Homo sapiens: one gene and its partner. The protein of the gene in region 2 interacts with the protein of the main gene of each other region in a pairwise test. Each region holds a gene or a part of one and is shown on either strand. Other genes may lie near its edges. The genes, in order: KAT14 and CSRP2.

Region 1 (15,868 bases), on a different chromosome or scaffold from region 2:
GTCAGCAGTGAATATATTTTTTTTTTTTTGAAAAGGAGTCACACTTTGTCGCCCAAGCTGGAGTACAGTGGCACGGTGTGGGCTCACTGCAGCCTCCGCCTCCCAGGTTCAAGCGATTCTCCTGCCTCAGTCTCCCAGGTAGTTGGGATTACAGGGGCCCACCACCATAGCCAGCTAATTTTTGTATTTTCAATGGAAATGGGGTTTCACCATGTTGGCCAGGCTGGTCTCGAAGTCCTGACCTCAGGTGATCTGCCCGCCTTGGCCTCCCAGAGTGCTGGGATTACAGCGAGTATTTTTCACTCCCTTCTCCACATATTCGGTATCTAATTTCATTGCGAAATAAAAAGTGCCCCTCCAAACAACTCAAAAGCTCATCCCTAAGTTTCTAGATATTCGTTCCAACAAACTCCTGGGGGAACCACCCTCATGGATTTGGGGAAGGGCTTTTTACTCACTTGCTGCCATGTCAGCTTCAGCCTTTCATACTGCTCCTTGCCATCTGCTGAGCAATCCGAACAAGTAAACCTAAAAAAATTATCACCCTTAAGGTAACTGAGCTGTTCCCTCAGCTGACCTAGGAGAAAAACAAAAAGTCACATCATGGGTTTATCTAGAGCAGCGGTAACCTAAAGGTTTAATCCGTTTATCACCCAGATTTTCCTTTCCCATGTTGTCTTCTTTTCTTCAGCCAACCCACAATTGCAAAATGGGGAAAAGGAAGGGAATTAGAAAGATTTCTATTCTTCTAACACCAAGTATACGCCCACTAAGATCTGTAGGATCCAGTAACTTTTAGGAGAAAGGTACTGGAAAAGCAGGTATTGTTGCTGGATTTCCCAATTGTCACATTCCTGACTCCCAGAGGCAGGTCTCTTCACACATTCTTTCAAAAAATATGAGCTCCCTCTGCATACCAGGCACTGGGCTAGGAACTGGGAATACAAAGTCCAAGACAGATAATGGTGCCTGATCTCACAGGTTTGCACTTCCCTGAGGGCTGCATAGAAAACAGGTGATCACAACAACACAGTGGTTCTCCATGCTCACAGTGCATTGGAATCACCCAAGTTGTTCTTGGTTTTCTAAATATGCTTGATTCTAGCCCAGATAAAATGCATCAATTTCTGAAGCAGAGCCTAGGAGTTACATTTCTTAGTCCCTCAGGTGATGCTGATGCTCTGTGACACATAAGGAATGGAATGTGCTGTGTACCACAGGGCAGTGTGAGGGTAAATAAAAGGAGGCCCAACCTATATTAGGGGGAGGCTTAGGATTAGAAATTGGCCAGGTGAAAAGGGGTCTCTTTGTGTATAGGGAGAATGGAGGCTGTGGAGATGCATATTCCAGAAGAAAAAAACTGTGCAAAGCCCTAAGGATAAGAATTGTTTGTGAAGAATAAGTTCACCCTAACTGCAAAGTTGTGTGGGAATCAAAGAAACTACAGTTAGCAGGGTCCTGACCACAAAGGGTAGCTTAAAATTTGTCCTCAACAGGACAAAGGGAAAGCCACTGAGAATTCAGGCAGAACCTGAAATCAATAACAGAGACCGCTCAGAAGCAAAAACCAGCTAACTAGTAAATTCTGCATTTCCTGTGAAAATGTTACTATTAATTTGTTAACAGTGACTAAATTTGAAGTTGAACCCATTTTAAGAAAAACATTTCCACATGCCAGAAAATGACCCTCTTCACAGTTATATATGTATTTCTCTGACTTGGTTACAAATTATATTACACAAAGGCATTCCTCAAGTACCTATATCTTTACTAGTCTCTTGCCTAATGGGAAAATCCTGTTTCGGTATAAACCATATGATGGCTGGCAAGCCATACTCCTCAGGTGCCAGGAAGCTGGCCATTGAAAATCTCAAGATCAGGGCCGAGCACAGTAGCACATGCCTGTAATCCCAGCACTTTGGGAGGCCGAGGCGGATGGATCACCTGAGGTTGGGAGTTTGAGACCAGCCTGACCAACATGGAGAAGAAACCTCATCTCTACTAAAAATACAAAATTGGCCGGGCATGGTGGCGCATGCCTGTAATCCCAGCTACTCGGGAGGCCGAGGCAGGAGAATCACTTGAACCTGGGAGACGGAGGTTGCAGTGAGCCAAGATCATGCCATTGCACTCCAGCCTGGGCAATAAGAGGAAAACTCCGTCTCAAAAAAAAAAAATAAAATAAAAAAAAAAATTAGCCAGGTGTGCTGGCAAACACTATAATCCCAGCTACTTGGGAGGCTGAGGCAGGAGAATCGCTTGAACCCAGGAGCCGAGATCATGCCATTGCACTCTAGCCTGGGCAACAAAAGCAAAACTCCATCTCAAAAAAAAAAAAGAAAGAAAAGAAAATCTCAAGATTGAGGCAATCAGGGAGTGTGTATGAGGTATCTCTTGCCAGCAGAAAAAAAGGAAAATGGAAAAAAAGACTGGTCCTAGAAAAAGGGCAAAAAACACCTTCAATCTGCTAATTCTAACCTCTTTTCAGTATACAATAGCAGGAGTTCTCCACGTAAGTTAAATATTAACAAAGTAATTTTTATAAACTTGAACATGAATTCAACACTGGGACTGGAATTTGGCCCTAAATCTCTGTGACCTTGTTAGAAAAATATGGCTAATTCTTTAAGTAACACAGGATTTCCAATTTTCTCAATTTTATTGAGTTACCACCAAAAGTGTTAATTTAACAATGTGATAGAGGTTGACAGTACGTTTCATTAGTACAAACATGCCTATGTTTTATATAAATTTATAGCTGATCAACTAGAGAATAAATATAATTATCCTTTTATTTAGGTCTCTTTTACATTCACGTTTCTTTCACAGGTTGGAAAAACAAACCTTCACACAGGAATTGACAAATCAAAGGAATTGAGAAGCTCCTTACTGGCTGGTATCCATTTTTGGCACTTGTCACAGAAGTAGGACAGCTGCTCCTCCATCCAAGACACGTCTCCTTCATCACTGTTGAGGGAATCCCCACTCTGGTCGTGCGATAAGTCCACTGATGCCTGATCCTCGGATTCGACGATCAGGAGCGTCTCTCCCTCCACTTCACCTTCCTCCAGTCCTTCTGAGGTCGATGTTCTCGTGGCTTCGTCATCATGCCGACTGATCAGACTACTCAGGTGGATGCTACTATCCATCCCTTCCTTCTCACAAGCTCGGCAGTGCTTCTCAGTAACAACCCTAAGCACTGGACAGTGACCCTAATGGGGCTTCTACCAGGATCACCCAGACAGACTCTTCCAAAAAGTGTCTGCCCACACTCCTTTATTCAGATATAAGGGACCCTGAAAGCAGTAACTTATATGACCCACTGTCCTTTATTTGATCAAGTTTAAAAGGACAGTGACCAAAAAAAAAGATGAAGATACTACTAAGCTACTCTCCATCAACACACACACACAAACTCGTGTTGTCTGTCCAACAGATATTTCACATTCAAGTCATGATTTTTGAGATCCTTTTGCCAATAACATCTTCTCTCTTTCTGCTTCAAGTTGCTCAGTCAAAATAATCTGTTCTCCCAAAAGACGAATGTTTTCTTTTTTCCGAATTTGCCTCTCAATGTCTCTGATAACTCCGTCACGAAGCCTCTAAAAACGTAAGAAACAGATTTCAGTAACATCCCGAACAGGTGGTCCCCATCCTTGTGCCATTCAAATCCAAATAACAGTGTTACCAAAATATACTTAAAACTTTCAGATTCCAAATACCCAGTTACTATTTTAATTTTCTGTACAAATGTAAAATGTAATAAACGATCAAATAAATTTGGTAGTGTGCTAAATGTTATTACTGAAATGATTTCTTATCATATTTTAAGAAATTCCTGAACATTTAGTACAGAAAATTTAATGGGAAATAACAGAAAAAAAAAACTGGCACTATGTTAAATTTTTTTTTATTTATTTTTTGAGACAAGAGTCTCGCTCTGTCGCCCAGGCTGGAGTGCAGTGGCTGCACTCCGCAGCTCACCGCAACCTCCACCTCCTGGGTTCAAGTGATTCTCCGGCCTCAGCCTCCCGAGTAGCTGAGACTACAGGCGTGCATCACCATGCCCAGCTAATTTTTGTATTTTTAGTAGAGACGGGGTTTCACCACGTCAGCCAAGCTGGTCTCGAACTCCTGATCTCAAGTAATCCACCTGCCTCAGCCTCCCAAAGTGCCGGATTACAGGCGTGAGCCACTGCACCCGGCCAATGTTAAATTTTTAAAGTTTAATTGATATGTAATGCTTTAAAAACTTGGCGAGTTACTACAGTAACACTCTAAACTACTCTTCTGTTAGCACTTATCCTAGCTGAACAATAAACACCAACAGAAAAAATGCAGATTACTAAAATCTCAACTTGGCTTCTAGCATGTAAAGTTAACAATGTAAAAATCATGCAGAATTATTAATTAATTATATAACAGAGAAAGAAGAAAAAGAAGGATGCTACTACCAGCGGAAAAAATAAATGCTCATCAATGGTAGTTACCTTAGTAAGCACTAAAAAACCACAGCACTTCAGAACGTGGACCTGGCACCCAAGAAGAGACTTTTAAAAACATCAGTCATTACTAATAACTAACATTTTATAGTTTATTGCTCACAAAATACTCTAAAGGTTTTAGGCCAGGCGTGGTGGCTCACTCCTGTAATCCCAGCACTCCTGTAATCTTAGGCCAAGGCAGGCAGACTGCTTGAGCTCAGAAGTTCTAGACCAGCCTGGGCAACATGGCAAAATCCCATCTCTAGCAAAAATAAAAATAAAAAAAAAAAAAAAAAAAAAAATTGCAGGGAGTGGTGGTGTGTGCCTGTGTTCCCAGCTACTCCGGAGGCTGAGGTGATAGGATCACCTCAGCCTGGGAGGCACAGGCTGCAGTGAGCTAAGATTGTGCCACTTCACTCCCACCTGGGTGACAGAACAAGCCCCATCTCAAAATAAATAAATAGGGTTTTTTTTGTTTTGTTTTATTGGTTTTTTTTTTTTTTTTTTGAGAAGGAGTCTCGTTCTGTCACCCAGGCTGGAGATCTTGGCTCCATGGCACGATCTTAGCTCACTGCAATCTCCACCTTCTGAGTTAAAGCGATTCTTGTGCCTCAGCCTCCCCAGTAGCTGAGATTACAGGCGTGCGCCACCAGGCCTGGCTAATTTTTTTGTATTTTTAGTAGAGACGGGGTTTCACCACGTTGGCCAGGCTGGTCTCGAACTCCTGACCTCAAATGATCTGCCTGCCTCAGCCTCCCAAAGTGCTGGGATTACAGGCATGAGCTACCGTGCCTGGCCAATAAATGGTTTTTAATAGTGGCTATATAGAGTAGAATTAATGGGAGTGGGGCCCAGGGCCTGCGTATGTTTGTGGGGTTTTTTCCAAATTATTTTACCTATTTTTAAAAACTCACCTAATATAATACCTACTTGCTGGACCTCCTCCAGGCCTACAGCTTCATTATGAGGGATTTGAAGGAGTCCCGGGATTGATATAACTCAACTGAAACACAACTGTCTTGAACCATGCACCCTTGGCAAGATCACCACTGAGACAAAAACGGAGGTGCTTATTCCACTCCCCCAACTGCAGGTCTTCCTGTCCTGTGCTTCTTACACCATGACACACCGATACCCACCCTCCCAAGCCCACACCATTCACCAGAATCATTCCTTCCACACCTGCCTCCCAGATCCTACCCTTCCTTCTCAGAGATGTCACGTGTGCTTATGATCTGGCTCTCCATCCCATCATTTGCTATCTTCCTCTAGGTTTCAAGGTCTATGCTGATTGCCTCACACATCCTTCCTGTGACCCTCACTGAACTACCTTTCTAACAACTTTCCTTACTAATCACTAAAGACCTCTTTATTCTTCCAACCCTAACACCTAGAACTCTGGCTCCTCATGTAGCACTGCTTAATTTTTGCTAGGTTACTGTGAGGATTACAGATGATATACATAAAGTGCTTAATACACTGCCTGGTATGTGGTAGACGGTCAGGAATCAATATTCATTATTTAATTTCTTGCTTCCTTGAACCTTCCGACACATCCACTGTGCTAATCATTTGTCCTAGTCTTTCCCACTGCTATTAATACAATGTAAGCCCCTAATGAAGAACCGGACATAAAAGGAAAAAAAATAAACACACACACACACACACACACACACACACACACACACACACGTTATTTTGGTTCTTCAGCTCTAACTTCCAAATAACCACTTTTCCACTCTGTAACACAATGGTGCTTAGTCCTGTGTTAAAATTCTCTGGGTTACTTTTAAAACATTGTTGAACCAGGTCCCCATCCCCAGGAGATTCTGGTTTAAATGGTCTGGGGTGGGGACCAAGCCTTAGTCACATTGTAAAAACTTTCCGGGAACATTTGATGTTCAGTTAGGGTCCAAAGCCAAGCTCTAATCCATCCCTACCCAAACCCTTCAAACATCACTTCACTGACGTCAGATCATCTGTCATACTAAATTTTACTCCATCTCAAGTTTTCCCAGGATCAACATCTTTTACTTTTCCTTGTAAGAGGCGGAAGTCTTCTGCCTCTATTCCAAAAGCCAGCCCCTTAGGAGCACATTTTAATCCCAAATCTCTGATCTCTCCTGTGCCCTTTCATTGTTAAGTCATCTCAACCCCTCGTCAAAATTCTTGTACCATCACATGCTTCCTCTCTTCTAATTTCCACAGTCTGTGAACACCAAGAACAAAGACCTCATCCACTTCATCTCTGTATATCAAGCACATAGCACAGTCCAAAGGTCTGGGTAGGCAAATCAAGAAAAGACTGTTTACTCTTGATTCATCCAGTCCATTATTTTCACCCTTGGTGAACTAGGTTCAACCCCAATCACTGCCAAGTTGTTTTCTGAAAATTCACCAATGACCCTGTTCTCAGCAAGGTCGTGAATCACTGATAGACTCTGGAAGAGTGGAGTTTCCTTATCTTTGTATTCCCAAGGTGCTTAGTGAGGTAGCTTCCACACAGTAATCACCCATTAAAGGTCTGTCAACTTGAATAAGAAAGAAAATATGAACTGAGAGGACAGAATAGTCACTGCTGATCAGCAGGTCACGGATATTTCCTGAAATAAAAGTACCAAAAAAAAAAATCTGGAGACTGTTATCTCTATCGTTCCCAGATTCTAGTTTCCATAGCAAACTGTTCATTTAAACGAGAAGTGCAAACATCTCACCAAATTATCTTGGTCAAAGGCATGGAGAGTGAGTACGGGGAAGGGGGGCTCCCTTACCATGGGATAAAATCAATAGCACGTAAAACACATTAGGCTTTAACCCCAACCTTGGGCCAGGAGGGAGGCTGGTAGCTTGCAGAATGCACCCCAAGAAACTCCTTCCCCACCTTCTATTTTCTAGCGGCCCAAGTGAGATGTGGAAAGGTCCGCACCCTGCGGGCCGGCTGTGACTTGAAAACAGAGCCACTGGGCACCCCAAAAGCTTGCGTGCCGTGCCTGTGCGGAGCAAGGCCCCTTCAGCGCGGAGCTCCAAAGGCGCTAAGCCGGGCAGCCGGGTCGTCCTGAATCTGCGGGCTGCACACGCCCGCCGGGAGCTGCAGCGCCCGGAGCCCAGCAGAGCGGCCGCCGGCCGCAGCCGCAAACGCGTGGGGTGCAGGGCCGCGCCACCGCGGGGGAAAGACACGAAGAGGAGCTGAGGAACCGAGCGGGCAGAGACCACGAGAGGCCCCAGGTCGACGCCGCGCGCGCGGGCCCGGAAGAGACGGTCACGTGACACCGACCTGCTGGTCCCACTGCTGCTTCACATGTACGCCGGCCACTGTGGCCGCCGTCAGCAGCACCGAGAGGCCCAGCACCACCTTCGAGCTCCTAGACATCCCCACGCTGGCGGCCGCGGCCTCTCTCTCCCGCCCGCCCGAGGCGCAGAGGCCGCCGCAGAGTGCGCACCGCCGCCTGTACTGCCCAGGCTCGACCCCTCGAGCGCAGAGCCCCAGCCGTCGCGTGCGCCGCTCGCCGCTGCCAGGCGTGAGCAATCGAGAGCCGAGCATAGAGCGGCGCCCAGGCTCTACGAACTCTTGGCTTCACTAGGGGCCTCCTGCACACCCCGCAGGCGACAGCGTTAGACCACCCCCGATTCAAATTCTAGGAGTCCCGGCCCAAACTGGCCCCGGCACCTTACCAGGGTGGAGGGTGGGGGTTCCATGCCCCTCAGTCAGTTCAGTACCAACCTCACCCCGGGCGGGGTCTGGATACCGTGCTGACCCCTCTCCCACAGACGTCCCTTCTGAGCCCCTGACTGATCCAGAAGCTTCGCCCAATACCGGCTTCGCCTAAACGCAGCCCCCTCATTGCTCCTTTGGCGGGGCAGGCGCCACCAGGAGACCGCCTCGTTAGGCAGCTTCAGAGGCGCGGGGTTCCCATCCGTGGAGTTTTTGCCTGAGGACCCATTATTAAACGCTGTAGTCGCGGTCACCTGGTTTCACCTTGACGCTGTGGGGCGACTGGTCAGGCTCGGATTATTATTATTATTATTATTATAATTTTGATACAGAGTCTCTGTCTATCGCCCAGGCTGGAGTGCAGTGGCGCGATCTCGGCTCACTGCAACCTTACCGGATTCAAGCGATTCTCCTGCCTCAGCCTCCCGAGAGGATTACAGGCGTGAGCCACCGCGCCTGGCCCCATGTAATCTTTGTGATCACTTTTACACCCAAGTTTCCGCGCCAGTAATACAAGGGAAATAAATGATATAAAGAAGTCTTGCGTTGGGAATAGTTAAGCAATTGTGCAAGACGCATTTTCACTTCTTCCTCGGGTAAAAAAGGCAAGGCCTCCCAGAAACTTTTAAGTATCTGATAGAGCAACCAGTGAAAACGTGTTCATCATTCAATCATTCTTTCCCACTAGAATTCACAGAGAACGAGCTTCTTCCGGTGGACACGGCTATAGGCAGTATTGATTAAGCCTCACCAGGGAGTTTTACAACATTCATTACTGTTCATAGTGCTTTGCTATTCCAGTCTCTTATGTGAGCGTAAATGGCATAAGGGGACTATTGCTCTTAAAGGTATCTTTAAAGATACCTTTTCCAAATGTCATTTTGTCCACAGCATTTTTTGCAGCCTAGAGAGAATGTACCACTGAATTGGAAAATGGAGTTCTTGCTGTAATGAACTTTGAGAAGAAATTCAGTTCAGGGTGTATTTGCATATTTCTCTTTAAAAATTATATTAGACTTCTTTTTATTCGTGGTATATCCTAGATATTTTCCCCTGTAAATCAGTGAGCCTTCAACAGAGCTGTATGTCCTTAGAGTGTACATCAGGGAATTAGATCAATCGCCTTTCATTTTATTGTGACTAATTTTTCAACTTGTTTTCTTGAAATGTACTCTTTTCTTTATTTTCAGGATACTAGAAGCAAAAAAAAAAGTATTCTACTTTTAAGAAATCATTTATTATTAACTGTGTCAAATAAAAAAGTGGGTTGGGGGACTGAGGGAGGTCTTGCAAAAAAAAAAAAGTATGTTTATCTGTTTAAATATTTATAAGCCTAAGCAGTATATTTTCCGTGATTATTGTCGCATAAATTACTGATTTGTGAGAGTGACTGCATATCATCAAACTGAGAAGCAACTATTTTTTTCTTTTTCTTTTCTTTTCTTCTTTTTAATTGAGACAGGGTCTCACTCCGTCGCCCAGGCTGGAGTGCTGTGGGGTGATCTCACTGCAACCTTTGCCTCCCAGATTCAAGCGATTCTTGTATCTCAGCCTCTGGAGTAGTTGGGGTTACAGGCCTGAGCCACCAGGCTGCACTAATTTTTGTATTTTTAGTAGAGATGGGGTTTCACCATGTTGGCTAGGCTGATCTAGAACTCTAGTACTGGGTGCTGGTACTGGGTGTTTGTGAAAATTGGTCCAGTGGCACACCAAGGCTGTGTGGTCACACATACATGCATGATACACTTCTATACAAAATCTTACATAACTATACGAACAGAAAAAAAATGGCTCTTTTTTGTTTCTTTTATTGTCTTTATTTCCTTTTGATTTTTTATTGTGTGTTTTTTTCTTTTTTTTCCCATTGGTTCATAGCCGATGGCTTTACATTTTATCATCACTTCTTGTATCAAATAGCTTTTTGGCTGGGAACGGTGGTTCATGCCTGTATTCCAGGCACTTTGGGAGGCCAAGGCAGGTGGATCACTTGAGGTCAGGAGTTCGAGAACAGCCTGGCCAATATGGTGAAACCCCGTCTCTACTGAAAATACAAAAATTCGCCAAATGTGGCAGCGCATGCCTGTAATCCCAGCTACTTGGGAGGCTGAGGCAGGAGAATTGCTTGAACCCGAGAGGCAGAGGTTGCAGTGAGCCACTGCACTCCAGCCTCGGTGACAGAGTGAGACTTCAACTCAAAAAAAAAAAAAAAAAAGTTTTTTCTCCATGGTAACTATCAAAAATTAAAGAGATGATCATTTAAAAAGATTTTGATCAGCCAGGCGTGGTGGCTCACACCTTTAATCCTAGCACTTTGGGAGGCCAAGGAGGGTGGATCACTTGAGGTCAGGGATTCGAGACCAGCCTGGCCAACATGATGAAACCCCGTCTCTACTAAAAATACAAAAATTAGCCAGGTGTGGTGGTGGGTGCCTGTAATCCCAGCTACTTGGGAGACTGAGGCAAGAGAATCACTTGAGCCCGGGAGGTGGAGGTTGCAGTGAGCCGAGATCAAACCACTGCACTCCAGCCTGGGTGACAGAGTGAGACTCCATCTCAAAAAAAAAAAAAAAAAAAAAAAATCTTGATCAAGAACTATGTGCAGGAGCAATGATCAGGAACTATTTTTAACACAAAACTTGATATTTAAAAGAGACTCCAAGAAGAATGTTATCAGGAAATTTTACCCAAAGTTGATATTTAAATCTACCCCAAGATTTGCTTTTATTTTTCTTCTCATAATTATATGTCATTTATTTTTTTGTTTTTCTTTTTCTTTTTTATAAGAGTACCATATAAAGGAAATGTAAATAATTATTATCCATGAAGCTCCTTTTAGAATTATCCAAGCTCACGCAAGTTGATCCCAGTGAGTTGTACAGATATCCTTATTTTTTATGTTTACCAAGGTGGGACGAAGCTTAGGAAGCATGGCTGATTTAATACAATTTGCTTGTAAGGCCAGAACATCTGAACCTTGTGTATCTGGCTATATTCTAGTGTCTCGGCATCCTAAGATCACATCAGTTCCTGCCCCTCTCAGCTTTGGATTGACTTAGGTGTGCCCAGAATGGCCACTGCTTTCCTGGAGAGGACAGTGGGTGCCTTGCCCTGCCATTGGCTGGCCTTCAGAGTGAACTTACCTCCAAAGACAAAAATAGGAAGCTGACCACCTTAAAAACCGCTCAGTGGCTCCCCATGCCTACAGGATAAAGTCCCATACTCTTTAGAACAGCATACTACCCTGTCCTTCCCTTCAGAATCCTCTAAGCAAGAGGCAGCATCAAAAAAGAAGTACAGTTGGAAGTCAGGGCTTGGAGAAGAATCAACAAATGAAAACTAAGGGGAGGGAATGCAGTCATTTTCCTGTGTTTGAACAACATGGTCACACAATCTTTGTTCCACCTTCACTCACACAAGGGTGGGGACTTGAAAAAAATGCCTTCCTCACTGAGTGTGTAATTTGGCTTATGTTATTTGGGCTTGAATCATGGCCAGGTCCTGGCAGCTATCCTGGGAGAGCTGGGTTTCGGGTCACTTCTGTCTTAAAGAATAGTAAATCACTAGTACCCTAGCAGGAGGTATCAGTAGGAGGCACGGGTTTAAACTGGGCTTGATGGTGGGCATGAATGCAATAGGTCAAGGCAGAGGCTTCAGGCAATGATCAGAAGCTTGTCATCATTGGGGCTGAGAGAGAAGGAGGAGGTGGGAAGGAGGAGGTTTGTTTGGGAAGAAGGTGGAGGGTGTCAGCTGAACTGGCACCAGTGACTGATAAATTTATCAGTCTCAGCACTAAATGATTACAGAAACATCACACCACATGGCACCGCATAAAGCACCATTATGACTATTTTAAATGCAAGCAAGAAGGCTTGCCTTGTGTATGGCCCTGTAGTGGGCTCTATAGGCAGACAAGGCCACGAAATCCCACCTTCTTCAGGCTGAGGCTCTGAAGTCAGCACATAAGGAAAAAGTCAAAAACAGTTAAAACTACCCTTGAAAACATTTTAGGAAGGTGACATGTTGAAGAAAATAGATATTTTCTCAGGAACTCCAAAACAGCCAGTTTTTCTTCTGGTACTGGAATTAATCACCATGAATTCAATGCAGTATCTATATAAGTAATCTGAAATTCTGCACAGGTTTGTCTCTTCTCTCCCATTTAGTAACTGATTCAATCATTTGTTTCTATCAGTGTGGACTGGTGGGTATTTATTTTATACTTTGGGTTATAATCCAATATTACTTTATTTTGTTGCTCAGATGGCTCCCGCTTTGGCCGTTGGGAGATCTTTCAGCTCCTCTGCTTCTCTGACGGACCCTCATCAATGTGTGTTTTTCTTGTTTAGCACTTGTCTATTTTCTGACACTGCACAATATTCTGAGCTAATCTTGTATATTTCCTGCCCAAGTCTCAGAATCTGCCATTTCTCCAAGAATCCAAGGTTCTTTTTATTGTAGAATAATATTGGAATCCAAGATATAGGTCCTGGCATGCTTATTGCTACTGGGGCTTTGTTTCTTTTGGGCCCTCTCAGCTGACAAAGCACATAAATATATGTGTGTATACTTATCTGTGTATGTTACATATCTGCAAATATTTCTATATGTAATCACCTGAATCTATATTGACTAAAATGTGAGATATTGCTGATGTCTGCAACTCTAGTCCATTACCAGATGGATTATTCTAACCTCCTTTTTTTATTGGTAAATTCCTACTCCATCAGTGAGAATTCAGGCTCCCATTTTCCACCATCCACTTGCGCAATTGTTTGATTCCAGTGTACATGTATAGCAGTTTCAGAATTGTTTACCTCATAATTATATGTCATTTTTTTTTTGTGGGAAACAACTTTACCTACTAGAGTACCATGCTTTTTTGCAGTTCCTATTGCTTTTGGCTTTATAGACCTCATTTACTCCAAAGTTACCAAATCAGCACCTTTGCCCTCCACCCCTTCAGTGATATCGTTTCATATGTTTGCAATACAGTTAGATGCTCTTGTCATGGTTTGCACTTTTTCCTAGGATCTTCCTGAGAGTATTTTTTTAACTCCTTTCTTTCTTTCCTTTCTTTCCTTTCCTTCCTTCTTTTCTTTTCTTTCTTTTTTGAGACAGGATCTCACTCATCCAGGCTGGAGTGCAGTGGCACGATCTTGGCTCACTGCAACTTCTGCCTCCTGGATTCAAGTGATTATCCCACCTCAACCTCCCGAGTAGCTGGAAGTGCAGGTGCATGCCACCAAGCCCGGCTAATTTTTGTATTTTTAGCAGATAGAGGGTTTCACCATGTTGGCCAGGCTGGTCTTGAACTCCTGACCTCAAGTGATCCACCTGCCTCAGCCTCCCAAAGTGCATGGATTACATGTGCGAACCACCGTGCCCGGCCTTTTTCACTCCTTTCCATAAACATGATGGAATCAGCATATATCCTCTCTTCATACCGCCCAACTTAGGGATTAGATTGTTTTTAAGCTTTACCTTTATGCCTTTAAATATATTTAGACCTCTGTGCTTGATTTACCATCTTTAAATAATATATTCTGGTCACCAGCTCTAAACATTCAGGAAACCAGCTGTATTAGTTTGTTTTGACATTGCTATAAAGAACTACCTGAGCCTGGGTAGTTTATAAAGAAAAGAGGTTTAACTGACTTACAGTTCCACAGGCTGTACAGGAAGCATGCTTGGGGAGGCCTCAGGAAACTTACAATCATGGCAGGAGGTGAAGGAGAAGCAAGTACATCTTCACGTGGCTGGCAGCAGAGGGAGAGAGAGAGAGAGAAAGGGGAGGTGTTACACACTTTCAAACAACCAGATCTTGTGAGAACTCTACTATGAGGCAGCACTTGGAGGATGGTGCTAAACCATTAGAAACCACCCCCATGATCAAATTACCCCTCATGAGGCTCCACCTCCAACAATGGGGACTACAATTCAACATGATATTTGGGTGGGGACACAGAGCCAAACTATATCACCAGCATACTTGACCTATTTCCTATCTTCTGCTCTTTCTCATTCAACTTTTGTTGGTTATATCACTCCTTCACTGTCAGAGTTTATAACATATATATTTTGCTCTTTTTTTTTTTTTCTGAGACATGGTCTCACTCTGTCACCCAGGCTGGAGTGCAGTGGCTCAATCTCAACTTACTGCAACCTCCATCTCCCAGATTCAAGTGATTCTCCTGCCTCAGCCTCCCAAGTAGCTGGGATTACAGGCTTGTCACCATGCCCAGCTAATTTTTGTATTTTTAGTAGAGATGGGCTTTCTCCATTTTGGCCAGGCTGGTCTCGAACTCCTGACCTCATGTGATCCACCTGCCTCAGCCTCCCAAAGTGCTGGGATTACAGGCGTGAGCCACCACGCCTGGCCTACATTTTGTTCTTTAACCATAATTGCCATGCTTGTTTTCATCTTAGTTGCATCTTTAAATGGATTTGATGGTCATCACCAGTCCTTTCTGTGTCTTTTCTCCATCTACCCTCTATTAGAATCTTTTAAAAAGTGTTGTAGAAACTATATTTCCTGAATTCTTGCACATTAAAAAAACATGTTTGTGTTGTCTTTGTCCCTGAAGTACAGTTCAGCTGAGTAAAAATTTCTTGGGTCACACTTTCTTTGCATGAAGACTATATAGACTTTACCCATCTGTCCTCAAATATCAAATATAGCTGTGGCAACTTGGAGGCCGGTCTAATTTTCTCCTTTTAGTTAATTACTTTGCATAGTTGCTTAAAGCATACTTTCTTTATCTTTGAAGTCCAATAACTTTACAAGAATATATTTTTGAGTCTATTTTCCTTGGACACGAGGTACCCATTCAATTTTTAGATTCATACTTTTAACTCTGGAAAATTTTTTAAATTACATCTGTAAATACATTTTCTGTTCTATTCAAATTTCTCCTTCAGGGACATGAATTATGTGCCTATTGGATCTCCTGTGCCTGCCTGTCACATTTATTACTTTCTGTCTAATCCTTTTTAAACTCTGGTCATTTTAATTTCATTTGCCTTCCTATCTCTTTTCTAATCGATGGGTCTCTCTTACTTCAATGGTATCTAGTCTACTCTGGAAAAGTACACTTGGAAACAATTTTTTAAATGCTTTTTTGAAATTCTACTTATTTACCCAATGCTTTTAACTCATAGTTCATCTTTTTAAAGTTGTGTAAAATACACATAGCATAAAATTTACTAGGTAAACCACGTTTAAGCGTACAACTCAGGGGCATTAAGTACACCTGCACTGTTGTGCAACCAGCATCACTATTCATCTCCATAACTTTTTCATCTATCCAAACAGAAACTGTGTCCATTAAAACGTAACTCCCTATTTCCCCTCCCTCTAGCCCCTGGTAAGCGCTATTCTACTTTCTGCCTCTGTGAATTTGCCTATGTTAGATGCCTCGTATAAGTGGAATTATGCAATATTTGTCCTTTTGTGTGTGACTTATTTCACTTAGCAATAATGCCTTTGAGGTTCATTTATGTTGTAGCACATGTCAGAACTTCCTTCCTCTTTAAGGCTTAATAATATTCCATTGTATGTATATACAACATTTTGTTCATCCATTCATCTGCTGATGGACATTTGAGATGTTTCTACCTTTTGGCAATTGTGAATAATGCTGCTGTGAATGTTGGTGTGCCAGATTCTGATCCT
Region 2 (15,333 bases):
ACTCTATCCAGCCTGCTATCAGTACTCTAGTAGGAAAACCCACCAACCAGCACCTAGAACATAGCTGCAGAGCAACAAACAAGGTAAGGACAAAACTGAGCTGATTGGTCACTATAAACCTTCTTTTTTGGGGACATTAAAATGCACTCCAAAGTAAAGCAACAGTTCCACATATGGTGGTGACTGTCTAAGAAACAAAGTTCAAGCCGGATGCGGTGGCTCACGCCTGTAATCCCAGCACTTTGGGAGGCCAAGGCGGGCAGATCACGAGGTCAGGAGATCAAGACCATCCTGGCTAACACGGTGAAACCCCGTCTCTACTAAAAATACTTAGCCGGGCGCGGTGGCAGGTGCCTGTAGTCCCAGCTACTCGGGAGGCTGAGGCAGGAGAATGGCGTGAACCCAGGAGGTGGAGCTTGCAGTGAGCCGAGATAGTGCCACTGCAGTCCCGCCTGGGTGAAACTGCAAGACTCCGACTCAAAAAAAAAAAAAAAAGAAAAGAAACGAAGTTCAAATTTGCACTTTTAGGCTGAACCTCTAATGGACATTTCCTGAATTTGGCTGGAAGAAGTATGATGATCTTCCATTTCTGTCACTCTTGGCATTGCTGTGCATAAAAAAAAAAAAAAGCAAGTCTTCATTTTTCTTACAAGCCTTTGGCCGTACTACTCCACTACAGCTGCCATTAATCACAGCAAACTGGATTTGCACTAAGCAATCTGGGCTGCATGCCTTTCCCAAATCCTAGGCATTAATTTACAGAATGGTAAAAGCAAAAATAAAATCCCACTTTACATGTGATAAAATAGGGCAAATTCTGTTTCTCAGTCTTGTTCCTTGTTTTTCAGTGTCTGAAAGAGTTCCAGCACTAGGATTTATCCACTGTATTACATGTTACAACGTGATTTATATCTGAACACCTATGTGCAATTTCTCCTTGCTACCTCTTCTTAGCCTAAGATGCCACCAAAATTCATAAGACTCACCCATGCGGAAAAACTGATATAGTCTAAGTCTGAGTCGTCTTATGGTACAGTTAGCTCACTCTCTAGATAACTGTGGTAGGAGTTATTACGAAATTATTTTAGGCAGATAGAGAGGAAAAGGGGTCCTTGGGAAGTTTTCATTTTTTAAAGCATCTCTGGAAAAGTTTCTTGTAAAGCCCTGGCTCTTAGAGCCAGGCCAGCAACCTTTGATATGCAAATGCAGGCCATGTGGGCCATGCAAATGCCCCACCTGTGCCTGGTGACAGGGCAGCCTCCACATATCCCCACGTGTGTGGAACATCATGGCGCCCTGCATTTGCATACTAAAAAGCTAGGGTGTGAGGGCCAGCTTTTTCTTGGGCTACGTGAATGACATGCCTGGTCAAACCAATCCCCTAAGCCCTATGTAAATCAGACATCGCCTCCTCCAGTCTTTGCATATATACCAGGCTGGTATCCATTGCAGGTGGGGACCTCCTCTTTGGGCTTTGGAGCCCCCCTCCCTGTGTCTCTGTACCGGGGAGCTTCTTCCTTCTGTCTTCTCCCTTCCTTCTTGCTCATTAAACTCTCCGCTCCTTAAAACCACTCCACGTGTGTCCGTGTTGTTTTATCTAAACCGGCGGCAGGATCAAGAACCCTTGTGTTCCTGCACTCATCAGAGCCGTATGATAATCAAGAGCTGACTACCTGGGCCATTCTCATACCATTAGTGCCGCATTTACTGTCTTACTTTAGAATCAGAATGACTTGAATCTATGAAATTCAAATCTATATGTTACCATTTAAAGTTTAAGTTATCTGCCCTGAAACTAAAAGTTTGGATTGAATTAGTCTATATTCTATATTTGCCCAGATTCTAAATGCCTCCAGAAGCTTTGACATTTTATTACTACATGTAGGGCCTTGTTATTACACTAGAACCTGACTATAATCCAATTTCCCCTAAAGGAGAATTTATTATAAAATACAGTCTCATCTTGAGCCACATCCAGGGGGAGTCACTTGTTAAAGAATGTAAGTTAGTAGCACTGTCCCGTTACGATGACTTTTTAGCAAGACCAGGATTTGACAGCTGTAGTTAATTGGAAATTAAGCTTTCAGTTGATGCCTGTTCTACAAATTTTTTCTTCTGTTACCCCAACTACCCACTTAGTCTACTTCTCTTACGGAAGTGAATACCACTGAACCAAGGATGAACTCTTCATGTCTTAGTGATCAGCTCCGTACTCCATTTGGCTCCTCCTACTGAAGCCAAATCCTCAACCTGGCCTTTAAGTCAGTTCAGCATAAGGGCAAAGTAAGAACACGCGTTTGGAGTCCACGAAGTGTCATTTCTCTCATCCGTAAACTTAGGGCAACAGTACCTTTTTTAGAGAGTTAAGAACAGTACCATCTTTATAGAGTTATAGATGAGGTAACGCTTGCATAGTGGGGACTCAAATGATAGTATCAATATTTAGCAATGTTCTAACCTTTGTTATCAATACTCATCTTGCCCTACCATCTCACATATCTATTCCTTCCTTATCCCCCAAACCCTCCCCATCAAGGCAACTGCCTTACCTCCGTTCCATCCAGCTAACTTCATTTCTGTATCTCAAGTAATTTTTCTAGGGTAGAGGCAGCTTATAAGCACTGCATAATGCTTTACTGTTTATGAAGCTCTCATATAAATGTATTAATTCAACAGTATTTCATAAGCCAGGTACTGGGTTAGGGGGCTGAGGATAAATGGGTCATAAGGAAAGGCCCGTTTTGCACAGAGTTCTACTGAGGTGGTAAAAACATGTGGACAAACAATAGCAATATAATAAATGACACAGAGGCATGCAAAAAGGGCTTTTGAAGGTCTGCACCATTTACTTTCACAGGCATGACAAAACAGTTTCATCTTGCAGATCCACTGAGAGTGGATTCCTGGAACTACGTTGAGAAAGATTCTGAAATTCAGTCCAGGTTCTACAATCAAGAGAACTGTGATTAATTATTTTTGCCATGGAAATACCGCAGTACACATGCCACCTTTTAGACATGCCAGATATAAAAGAAACAGTGCGGAGCTTAGAATCAGATAGACACAAGCTGGTTGTCAAAGCTAGTTATCAGCTATGTGATCCTGGCCAAATTTCCTTAACCTCTGAGCCTTAACTTCCTCAGAGGTAACTTGGAAATGGATGAGAACTATCTTATAGGCGGTTGTAAAGATTTAATGAGATAAAGTTTGTAAAGTACCTGGCAAAGAGCCTGTACTCCACAAATGGGCGGGCTTCCTTTTCCTTTAGGAGCACTCGGGGCCTGAATATACCAAGTTCAGTCCGTTAGGTCAAGGGTTCCAACCCCCAGGCCACAGACCGATGGCTGTGTTTTGTGTTCAGGCTACTTGCTACTGGTCTGTGGCCTGCTAGGAACCAGGCTGCACAGCAGGAGGTGAGTGGAGGGTAAGCGAGCATTACCACCTGAGCTCTGCTTCCTGTCAGATCGGCAGAGGCATTAGATTCTCATAGGAGCGGGAACGCTATTGTGAATTGTGTAGGTGAGGGATCTAGGTGCCCACTCGTTACGAGAATCTAATGCCTGGTGATCTGAGATGGAACAGTTTCATCCCAAAATTTCATGCCAAAACCATCCACCCACCATCCATGAAAAAACTGTCTTCCACAAAACTGGTCCCTGGTGCCAAAAAGGATGGGGACTGATGAGTTGGGTGACTTGCTGAGGTCACAGATCTCCAAAGAAACAAATCAGGCTCATGTTTTGATTCCAGAACCACAAGCTTTCCTCAAAACTCCCATATCTGACAGGCACAGAACATTAAGGGTTGAGACTATTCAAATGACCTGAGAATTCTCAATCCTTGAGTTACCAAATTACACACACAAATTACACACCTTCCTCTCCATCCAACTAGCGGTCAGTAAGTGGTCTCTGTGCACCACTCTCACACCCAAACTGCTACTTTCAACCAAAAAGCTTTTTATTACCCCTCTCTGCTAACCTAAATCTAACCCCACTGAAGGAAAACTCTCTTCTAATCTAGTGAACACTCCTGTGTGTACCTCAGCCTCACCATTCTTACTACTTCTGTATTCTGCTACCACTCGTGTCTTCAACTTAGAGTGCAGCAAAATTCGACACAGATTTGAATCACTATCTGCCAAATCCCATATTGTAATTAAAATGCAACTATGCTATAAGCTCAGTAACCCTGATCCCCAACATCTGCCATAGCAATCCACAATCTGTGCAAAACTACAAGTTATTTAATTATTCAAACAATTTAATATTTGCACGATTTTTTCATGGAATCAGACCTAGATATATATGCTGAGACTCTTGTTTATTTGCCAAATGATCACAGGTTGTTCATTTGATCTGCTAGTTTTCTCATTTTAAAAATGGGGACAATGCTTATTTATACAATAAGGCAGTTTTTAGATTAAACAATATATGCAAAACACCTAGAATAGTGTCTGCCACATGACAGGTAATAATTACAAATACTTCTATAAAGCTTAATATATGCTTTACTTATGTTTATATTACCTCATTTAATCCTCATAACAACTAAAGTAAGCACTACCACTATTCTCATTTTATGAGTGGGGAAACTGAGGCATAGAGCTATTAAATGACTCATAACTGTGAAACCAAAATAAAATTATCAATTCAACTTAAAAATGAATACCAATAAAATTCCAATTCAAAATTATTTCACTGATGTTTTGCTAAACTAAACCCCTGGTAGCAATACAGATGTAGTACCGACCTCCATGGCTATGGCATAGGTTCTTCTTAAGCTGAGTAGTTCCTGCACTGCCGTGTGCTGGATGAGGATTCAATTCTCTCTGCTTATTTTCTTTTGGAAGTACTGTGAAACCACCATGAAGCCCTCTTTCCTATAGTGAACTGGGAAGTAATTTGGCCCTAATGTATTACATGGTGTCTGTTCTTATTAGTCGAAGACAATAGTATTGTTGGCACAATAAGATTGTAAACAAAAAAACAAGGAACCTGATATCCTTTCCAGATCATTCACCATGTACTTCTATTAGTTCTTCCTCTGTGACTTACAACAATAAAATTTTTAACAATCAGAAATTGTGCCTGTGGTAAAAAGGAATTTGAAAAGGAAAAAATATAAAAAAAAGAAATTGTGCCCAGCTTCTCCACTATCCAGACTGAGAAATATTCCCTTAATTCAGGATTCTTAACCCAAAGGCCACAATTCCTTTTAATTCTGGGGGTTGGGGAACTTGGTACCACATACTTTATGTTACGTCATTTTGAGAAGGGGTCTGGAGGCCTCACAGGAGTGCCATGATATAAAAAGTCAGAAACCCCACCTAGGTAATCAAAGATCCAGAGGTGTCTGGGGATCCCCACCCAACAGAACCCAAGGGATGGCATGCTGGCAGTCAGGGTAAGGTGCCTTGAGGAAACCTGTGAACATCTGCACAGAGAAGAAAGCTGGCCTCCAGGCAAGGTCTAGGAAACGCTCTTCAGGTGTGAGCCAGCTCTCTCCTGAAACAGACTTTCACTGATAGCCTTTTCCCACATATATTCAACCAAGTGCACAACTTTGTCTAATTACAAGGAACTACTCCCAGGCTGGGCTGGGCTTTGTACAAGTATCAACAGGCCTTATGACAACCCTGCAAGGCATGTGCCACTACACCCATTTTACATGATGAAGTATTGAGGCCAAAGAGTAAAGTTAATTTGCCCAAGGGCATCAAACCAATGGGTACTGGAGTTGAGGTGTGAATTTGGTCCTGCCTGGCTTCGTTCCTCCCCCTTTCAGCCATGCCTCCTCTCCCATAGGGGGCTCCCTTTTGGGGTTCATTTGATTCACCTCACTTTTGACAAAGAAGAAAACCTAGAGACCCAGATCACTATAGCAATTTAGTGTCAGAGTTGCCTCTGGACTCAGGCTTCTAAAACTCCTCATTTATTGCTGTCCTCTACTCTACACCAACATTCTTGCTGTTTTAGGATAAAATTCAATCTCCCCCAAATCCAAGTGATTTTGCAATTTCATCAGGACAGGCCTCCAGCAAGTACTGCTTTCAGCACAGTACTTAGCCTATACCAGTATCAATCAATATTTGTTAAATACATTCGGAGAAATGCATTAAAAATTTATGATACGAACTTTAGATCAAATCTGCAAACAAATACCTATTGTGTGAGTCAAATTATATTTTTGTTCCCTATAATCACAACCTTATTCGCTCCTTCTTTCAGTCAATTGTCCAAGGTACCCAAGCAAGCACTGTGAGTTTCAAAGACTCATGTGATGCAGGTCTGGTCTCAAAGGTAACACAGAACCAAAAGAGCAAAGAAAACTACAATGCAGAGGAGAAAGGACCCAGAGAAATACTGACAAAGTATCAGTGACAATGGACGAGAGCGATGACCCCAGGAGTACTGGGGGAGACCACTTAGTACTTCACAACATTCTTTGTAGCTTGGCATGCAGTTCTGAAACTATGTTAGATTCTCCCTTTCAAAATCTATCACCCAATTCTTTCTTGAAAAACGTGAGTCAAAGTACAGCCAACTTTGTGGCTGTCCTATTTGAATTCTTGGCATTTTATGAGGAGAGTTTTAAAACAGGTTAATTGGAAAAGTCAAGAACTAAATACGACGATTTTCGCTGCCCGGGTTAAAAAATTACTAACTGCCCCCGCCCCACCCCCCCACCCCCCAAAAAAAATTCTGTACCGAAAAGCATTTATAAAGGGAAAATGTGCTTGGTTTGCAGACTGCAAATAAAACAGGTTAAACATTTTGGGTAGCCATTTAAGTAAAAATCGTTTAACAAATGTCCTGGCTTAGAAGGGGGAAAGGGATCCGCCGGTTTAGAAAGCCCGCCCCCGCCCCCAGGGGGTGCCTACGTGGAGCTCCTGAATCTGGCTCTGGAGAACCCAGAATGTGATTCGCAGGACCTGTCGCATAATTTCACAACCAAGCATTCTTGCATTCTTCTTTGTACCTGAATCGTAGAAAGTTCTGGAAAAAGCTAGGAGTAAGTGATTGACATTCCCTGCTGTTCCTTCAACATAGAGGGGTTCGGTGCTGGGTGGGCAGACACCACCAAACAATGGGGATGCCAGGAGCCCGGTACGGCGGCAGGAGCAGTACCCTGGGCTCGGGGGGATGTAGAAGCCCCATTCCACCCCTAGGGGACAGAACCCAGTAAGGTCGCCCTCGGTGCTCACCACACTCCGGGCAGAGGGGGCCCTGAGACTCCGACCCCCACCCCAGAGAGAGCCTGCCGCTGGACGAGGGGACCGACGGCTGCTAAGAGGCGGATTAGCAGAAACGCGAAACTCACAACCCGCCTCTCTCCCAGAGAAACCAGTATGGAGAAATTAAAGGTCATATAAGATTATTTACCTGCCCCGCGGGCCTGGGATCCCAGGGCATGGCCTGGACGGCCTCGGGGACAAGGGCAGGTGTGTTTGGGGGATAAGAGAGAGAAAATCTGGGGCGCAGGGATGAGAAGGCTGGCAGGGGCACAAATGCGGACCGGGATGGGGATGTCGGAGGAGACCGGGGCGCGCCGGCCGGGCGACAGCACGACCCCGGGAGGCGGTGGAAACCCCCTGCAACTCCCGCCCCGGGGTTGGCGGCGCCGCGGAACCGCCCCACCGCCCCTACTCACTTGAGTCGGAGGCGGGAGCACGTACCGCAGGCGGAGCTAGCGAGGCTGGGCTGGAGGGAGGGTCCAGGGAGTCCGAGATCCCAGGCGAAGCGCGCGCCGGTGCCTTTTAAAGAGCGCTCGGTGGGCGCGGCCTGTGTCCGCCCCGCCCTCCTCCCAGCCCCGCCCGCCGGATTCCCGGAGCCGCTTGCCGGGCTGGGGCGTGTAGCGGGCGGGCTGCCCTCTGCCCGCTCCGGGCTAGCCACCAGGAGACAAAAGGCAGGAGGCCCGCCTCTTCCTGCAGCTTCCCGCCCGCCCGGCATCTTCCCACGTCCCGGGACCGCTCCCTCCCAAAGGGACCCGGCAGTTCCAAAAGCCACTGGGACTTGGAGAGGGACTTCCTTCCCCTCCAGGGAGGCCCGGCGGCGGGACGGTCCCGCTGGAAAGTGGCCCCCGCCGCCCTGCGTCGGACCTGTCCACCGCGAGCGCCGATCCCCCTCTTCGCGGAGACAGTCATGGGCCGGGAGGCTCCAGCAGTAGAAAGTCAGCCAAACGGGGCTTTCCGCCACCTCCCCCTTGCCTTGTCCTTGTCAGTAAACTCAACGTGATTAACTTCCCTAGTTAACGCATATTCTCTCGTCCGATTTCCAGCTTCTGGGAATCCACAACTTCTTATTCTTAAAGAGCAAAATTCATCTAGACTAAATAAATGACGTTACGAAAACGCCCCATTCCCAAAGTGTTTCGCTCTTCCCCTCCACCAGGGCACAGCACGCGATGCTGAGGGGGAAGAAACCTAAACCCAGGCAGAAACCCCGGGCGCCACAGGCCCTGTATTTATATGTGTTGATGTCAGAAAAGCACAAGGATACCGTGACATCCGAAGGGACCTAATGCCTAAGCTACAGGATGATTTATTGTTTTAGATGAAAAGGAAAATAAACAATGCAATCTCTATCTGGTTCATATTCTAGGCCTCCTCATGACCTCTCCTGCCAGAAGCAATGATCCCGGAGAACTGATACTTGCGGAGTGGGGAGTTCAAAAAAGTCAGTGACCAAAACCCCCTCATGCCATAAATGCTATTGCCTCCTCTGGTCCAGAGTTTCTCATCCTCCACACCATTGACATCTTGGGCTGGATAATTCTTTATTGTAGGGGGCTGTCCTGTGCATTGTAGGAGGCCTCCACCCACTAGATGCCAGTTGCAACCTGCCCCCGACGTTGTGACAATCAAAAAGTCTCTGGACATTGCCAAATGCCCTCTTGGGGAGAGGGCAGGGAGCACATATCCGCATGACAACGTACAGAACCGACTTATAATATTATTATTGTTTTATTTTATATGCTGGGGCCAATCCAGGATAAACTCATTATAGCTGCCTTGTTCTCTGTCCACCAAGTACTGTCCAAAAACACATAGTGGTGATTGACATCTCCTGATACTGTGGCAGGAGTCTGGAAAGCATTCTTGCCTGCTGTGAGCTTTTCTAAATATGGGCAATCCTTATTTCAGTGATATCAGCTAGTGTAAGTGACTTGACTCACGGGCCAACAGGAAAATTCAGTCCCTCAGATTCTACATTCGCTTTAGCTCAGCTGCTTACAATGTTTATTTTTTCTTGTATAAGTTTGCCTAGTGCTTCTACTGAATGAAACTGTATCAGTGAGTCTCACTGCAGCAAACCACTGCCCTTTCTCTCCTACCCTGAGTTCTTCTCAATGCCTCTTTGTGGAAGGGGCCTCCCAAACCTGAGCTGTTTGCTTTCCGTCAAGCTCATGTTGTCCCTAAATTCCATAGCCATGTCTTATCATTTGAAATTGGGCTTGTTGGCCGGGCGTGGTGGCACATGTCTGTAATCCCAGCTACTTGGAGGCTGAGGCAGGAGAATCACTTGAACCTGAGAGGTGGAGGTTGCAGTGAGTGGAGATCACGTCAATGCACTCCAGCCTGAGTGACAGAGGGAGACTCCGTCTCAAAAAAACAAAACAAAACAAAAAAGAAATTGGGCTTGTTTCTGACCTAAAAGTGTTTCTGCTGTCTGTCCCTGTATGTGTTTGTCTCCGTGTACTTCACACTGAGTCTGCAGATGATATACAACGTGTGATTTTGAACAAATCTGTATTTGTATTTATCAACATTTAAAAAATATTTATTTTCTTTAAACATCTATTTAAACTGTTGACTCTTTTAGTTATGAACATGAAGAAATTATTTAAGAGTTTTTAGACAGAGTGGTGCAAAAGAAAGAGTATGGGCTTTGGAATCAAACACACATGATTTCAACATACAGCTCTGCCACCTATCAGTTTTGTAAGCTTGGGCTAAGTACTTGACCTCTATGCATCTGTTTCTTTATCTGTAAAAAGATAATTCTACACATCTTGTAGTGTTGTTATGAGGATTAAATTGGGTGATGTATGTAAAATGCCAAACATAGCACCTGGCACATGGTAAATACTGAATAATTGATGGTTGTTATGTTAAGCAAAGATATCTTGATGTCCTTTTTGCCTCTCAAGAAAGAAATAAAATTGTGCTTTGCTAAGTACTCATGTTGCCTTCTTGAGGGCTTGCTATTAAGAAGGTATGGAGTGTTTTCCAAAACAATTAAGAGTCTTCAGTAGGAAGCATCTGCGCGCCTGCAGAAGGATAGTGGGAAAAATGTGTCCTCAAGGAGAAGGATAAACCCTTAAGTCCACATGGTCCTAGTCTGTTTGACCCCTTCAACCTTGTAATAGGCAGAATCAAAGGTTAAATGTGTCCAGCAGGCTATTTCTTTTTCCCACTCAAAATGTGTATTATACTTGTAACAACTCTATTCTCTGGAATTCATCAACCAATTTCAAATCAAAGCCCTCTCTCAAGGTCACTGTCCTAAGGCAAGTTGAACCAAGGTTGTTGCCTTTTGTCATGACCTTGTGCTTCAAACGTAGATTTTAAAAATATTTTTATTATTTTTATTTCATGCCCCTTTTTCTTAACAAAACTCTGAATCAGATGAATGTGAATTTAAACACAAAGCCTCTTTATTTTAGGGCAAGGCTTTCTTCCCAGAAGGCAAGAAAGCTATAGTGAAGAGGAATGTCTTATTATAATGATTTTAGTATGAAAAAAAGGGAAACAATTTGCACTTTGCTAACCTACACATTTAATAACACAAAAAGAAGCAGTTTTTCTACCTTATTTCTTAGCTAAGATTTAGCAGCAGTTGTGGGAATTAAAAATTACTCATACTTAACCCTAATACTCTGTGATTTATTATCTGACAGAGAAAAGAATAATGTAAGTGATATATGCTTAAATGTTGGAAGGTAGATTAGAGTATCTTATTCTTGATATTTGTCATAGTTGCTTTTTTTAACCTGCTATAAACTCCTACTTTCTTATACTTGCTTCATTTCCTAACTCTCTTTCTCCAGTAGGCATTATTTTCATTCAGTGCTATTATCTTCTATTATGATGTTATTTATTTCTTCTTTTCAACCAGAGCTTTCTATCTTTTTGAGCTCTGCTTCTGCTTTCATATTATAGCAGAGTTTTTCTAGTTCTACTAGTAAGAAAGACACCATTAACTTCCCAGACAGCATATTCTATCCATCTTATCTTAACCCCTTAATTCCTTTATCTCACTTTTCTCCCTCTTTTTCAGCTGGTGACATCACCTTCTTCTCCTTCATTCACATTCACAGCCAGTCACCAACATTTCCTCAACCTTCCTCCACTTTGCCTCGAAGCTTCCATGTTTTCTCCTATGTTTGTACTTGCTGTCCCTGATCTTGGAGGAGCAAATGGTTCTCCCACTCCCTACCAACAGTGTCCACTCTGCCTAGGCTTTTGATCCATTTCTTTGGCATTTTTTAGTTATACAGTCATGTGCCACTTAGTGATGGGAACAGGTTCTAAGGAATGCATCATGAGACAATTTTACCATTATGCCAACATTGTAGAGTATACTTACACAAACCTACACCATATGGCCTAAGGTATAGCCTATTGCTCATGGGCTACAAACCTGTACAGCATGTGACTGTACAGAACACCACAGGCAATGGCAACACAATAGTATTTGTGTATCTAAACATATCTAAATATAGAAAAGGTACAGCAAAAACACAGTATTGTAGTGTTACAGGACCACCCTCATATTTGTGATCTGTTGTTGATTGAAAATCTTCATGTGGCACGTGATTGTACTCCCTTGCTGTTCAATTTCAGGCTCTATTGCTTTCTTTCCTTTCAAATGACAAAAATTCTGCTCACCCCGTATTTTTAAAAGCTGACATAAATATCCCTGAGTCGTGTAGTAGGTATTTGTGATTGCCTCTGTAGCATCCATTCCTCTCTGTGTGGTTTCAGGCATGTGAGTTCATGGTCCTGTTTCAGGGTGGAGCACTGGATCCAGTCAAGGCATTTGAGGCCCCGGCTTGGGGATGGTAAGCACGTGACCTAAGCCCATCCAATTAGAGTGAATCTCAGAACTCTGCTGGGGTGCGGAGTCAGAGCCAAGCTAGCCTATTCTGGAATGTGCTATGTGCATGGAGGAGGCCTTAGAGTGGTTGCAGTCATTTTTGCTAGGAACCTGGCCACGGATGACTTGACACAGACAAGAGGACAGAGAAAACAGAGCTCTGAACAAGTATTCACCAAGTTTACCTACCTGCAGGGCTTTTTCATTATGGGAGCCAATGAGTCCCCATTGCTGTTTAATCCATTTTGAGATGGATTTTCTGTTACTTGCAGTTAGGACTCCCAACAGATTGTGATGGCTTAAAATCATGTCCATGGATTCTTTGTTACTCCCCCCTTCAACAGGTAGAATTTAATTCATGCCCTTACCCTTGGGTGCGGGCTAGATTTAGTGCCTTGCTTCTAGAAAATAGAATGAAGTGCATGATTTTGAGACTAAGTCAAAAAACGCTTTGTGACAACTTTTTCCTCATTCTTCCCCCACCCTTTTCTTTTATCCATCCTCCCCCATCTCCAACATCCTGCCAACATGTGTGTGTGTGTGTGTGTGTGTTTCATCACTGCTATGGGGAAAGCCAGCTGCCATGTCAGGAGGACACTCAAGCAGTTAAGAACAGTGGCCTGTGGCCAACAGTCCCAGAGGAGCTAAAGCCTTCTGCCAACAAAAATATGAGTGAGCTTGGAAGGAGATATTACAGTACAGTACTGTCAAGCTTTGAAATGACTCCAGCCCTGGCTGACACTTTGACTGCAACCTCGTTAGAGATACTGAGACTCTCACTGTGGTCATTGGAGAGTTCCTAATTGCCAAACCCCCAACTGCTATTTTTCAGTCCTTACCCTACTTGACCTCTTAGTAATTGGACAACATTGAGTAAACATATGATTGTGTATACATGCACAGAATGAAATATTTTAGAAGGATGACACTTCTGAAATTTCTCACAAATGTTAACTTCTGTCTCTAGCTACTGTTCTGATGAGAAATGGAAAGAAATTTTGAAAGCTACCACCACTAGAAAGCTTAGTTTCTCCCCTAAAAAACTGTAATGTGAGCAACAGAGGATGCGTTAAACAATGTTTTTTATTATCTCACTTGTGATAAGATATACCATTTTATAAATATATATATATGTGTTTACTTTCTAACTTTTACATAGATTCCAAAATCCTTGCTAAAGATTACATAAAAATAAATGTAGGCTGGGCACAGTGGCTCACGCCTGTAATCCTGGCACTTTGGGAGGCCGAGGCAGGTGGATCACATAAGGTCAGGAGTTTGAGAGCAGCCTGGCCAACATGGTGAAACCCCATCTCTATTAAAAATACAAAAATTAGCCGGGCCTGGTGGTGCGCACCTGTAGTCCCAGCTATTCAAAAGGCTGAGGCAGGAGAATTGCTTGAATCTGAGAGGCAGAGGTTGTGCTGAGCCGAGATCCTGCCACTGCACTCCAGCCTAGGCAACAGAGCAAGACTCTGTCTCAAAATAAATAAATAAACGAATGAATGAATGAATGAATGTATACTCATCCATCCATTTATTCAGGAATTAAAAATTAAGTGTATATTTTATCTTAAATGTAGTTAATGACGTTTCCGTATATATATCTTGATCATTGAGCATCTCCAGAGAAAACCTCATAAAAATTTCCACTTAAAACAGTGTGCGTGTGTGTGTCTGTGTATTTCTCTGGGAAATGATGTCAAGAACGAAATTCTGGAAACAATACATAATGCTATAATTGATTGGCAGTTAATCATTTATGGCATATGCCTGCCAGGATTTTTGTGTAATCCTCACATACGGGATTAAAAATCATTCATAAAATAAAACTTTTCTTGTAAAAGAAAATACAAACTGTCACGTCTGTAGCTCTCACCTCATGAGAACAGTGTTAAGCTATGGGAAAAAGGTTAATGCCTTTAAAAAAAAAAAGCTTGTATAAATCCTGTATTTACATGTTTTTAAGGAGTGCTGGCTTAGATTTTACTTTAAACAGTTTTTACTTCTGCTGTTTCAAAAAGATTGTGGGAACCTAATTCCCATACCTAATTCTTAAATGATGTTATACGTTTAAAGACTCAAGCTATTACTTTGGGAGGCTGAGGCGGGCGGGTCACATGAGGCCAAAAGTTCTAGACCAGCCTGGCCAGCATGGCAAAACCTTGTCTCCACTAAAAACACAAAAATTAGCCAGGTGTGGTGGTGCACGCCCGTAGTCCCAGCTACATAGTCCCAGCTACTCAGGAGGCTGATGCATGAGAATTGTTTGAACCTGGAAGGCAGAGGTTGCAGTGAGCCAAGATTAAGCTGCTGCATTCCAGCCTGGGCAATGGAGTGAGACTCTGTCTCAAAAAACAAACAAACAAACAAACAAAGACTCAAGCTGCTGATTTATTTGTTCCTGTGTTCACTTCAATTGTAAGAGTTCAGAGTGCTACTGCAGAACCAAACTCCACTGACCTGTTAGTGGCTGGGTATGAGCTCAAATACCGTGTGTGTGGTGTGTGTGTGTATGTGTGCACACATATATAAGTACACACACGTACATATATGTGTATGTACAAACATACACACACACAGACTTGCAAAATGATCTGTATCCTCTGTGAAGGGTATTGGGTTATCGTGGAGTGATCATCCATCCAAATTCAGCTGAAAAACTATAAATGAGAAAGGGTCAAAGTACACGCCATTGGCTGTTCTTCAAGCCAACATGTGTTTCAACCAAATAGCAATGACTATTGACTGAATGTTCCTTGCATGTTAAACATGTAGGAATATTGTTTTCTTGTCCTTGTAAGGTGATTATCTTTCTTTCCATTTGACATGTGAGGGAAGTGAAACTCATGGAAATTGAATAACTTGTCCAAGGCCACATAGCTAGTAAGTGGCAGAACTGGGATTCAAATCCAGTCTGGATCCAAACCTCACACTCTTTCCACTGCAGAACGTGGCCTTTTAGCAATGATCCTTTCCTGTTATACTAGAAGAGTGAAGAAAGTACCTTTGCTTAAAGACACTAAAAGACTGATAGCTCCTTGGGAGCAAGTCTTTCAGCAAACCGAACATAAATCTTTCCAATCTGAGGAGACCTCCCCAGCATAGCTGACTAAGATGAAGTCTAAGACAAGTAAGAGTACCATGCAGAATCCGAGCTGGTCTTGAACCAGGGGAGGAGGGCTGGGGTTGGGGCCTCTGCTGAGAGAAGGTAGGGGTGTGGCATGAGGTG

The links.
Region 1: the proteins of CSRP2 (region 2) and KAT14 interact in a two-hybrid assay, tested with the Homo sapiens proteins (one study listed by BioGRID).

Annotation. Positions count from the first base shown.
Region 1 is NC_000020.11:18,129,942-18,145,809, reverse strand, and holds the start of KAT14 (cysteine-rich protein 2-binding protein), read right to left. Parts: upstream 7,948-15,868; 5' UTR 7,855-7,947; coding exon of another isoform or gene 7,759-7,854; intron 7,740-7,758; exon of another isoform or gene 7,256-7,739; intron 3,603-7,255; coding exon of another isoform or gene 3,453-3,602; 5' UTR 3,150-3,452; coding exon 2,891-3,149; exon of another isoform or gene 2,641-2,890; intron 712-2,640; exon of another isoform or gene 578-711; coding exon 459-577; intron 1-458. Other genes in the region: protein PET117 homolog, mitochondrial precursor, read right to left, coding at 3,453-3,602, 7,759-7,854. UniProt on the Homo sapiens protein: Component of the ATAC complex, a complex with histone acetyltransferase activity on histones H3 and H4. May function as a scaffold for the ATAC complex to promote ATAC complex stability. Has also weak histone acetyltransferase activity toward histone H4.
Region 2 is NC_000012.12:76,871,285-76,886,617, forward strand, and holds the start of CSRP2 (cysteine and glycine-rich protein 2), read right to left. Parts: upstream 7,736-15,333; 5' UTR 7,655-7,735; coding exon of another isoform or gene 7,654-7,654; exon of another isoform or gene 7,386-7,653; intron 7,367-7,385; exon of another isoform or gene 7,075-7,366; intron 6,999-7,074; exon of another isoform or gene 6,884-6,998; intron 1-6,883.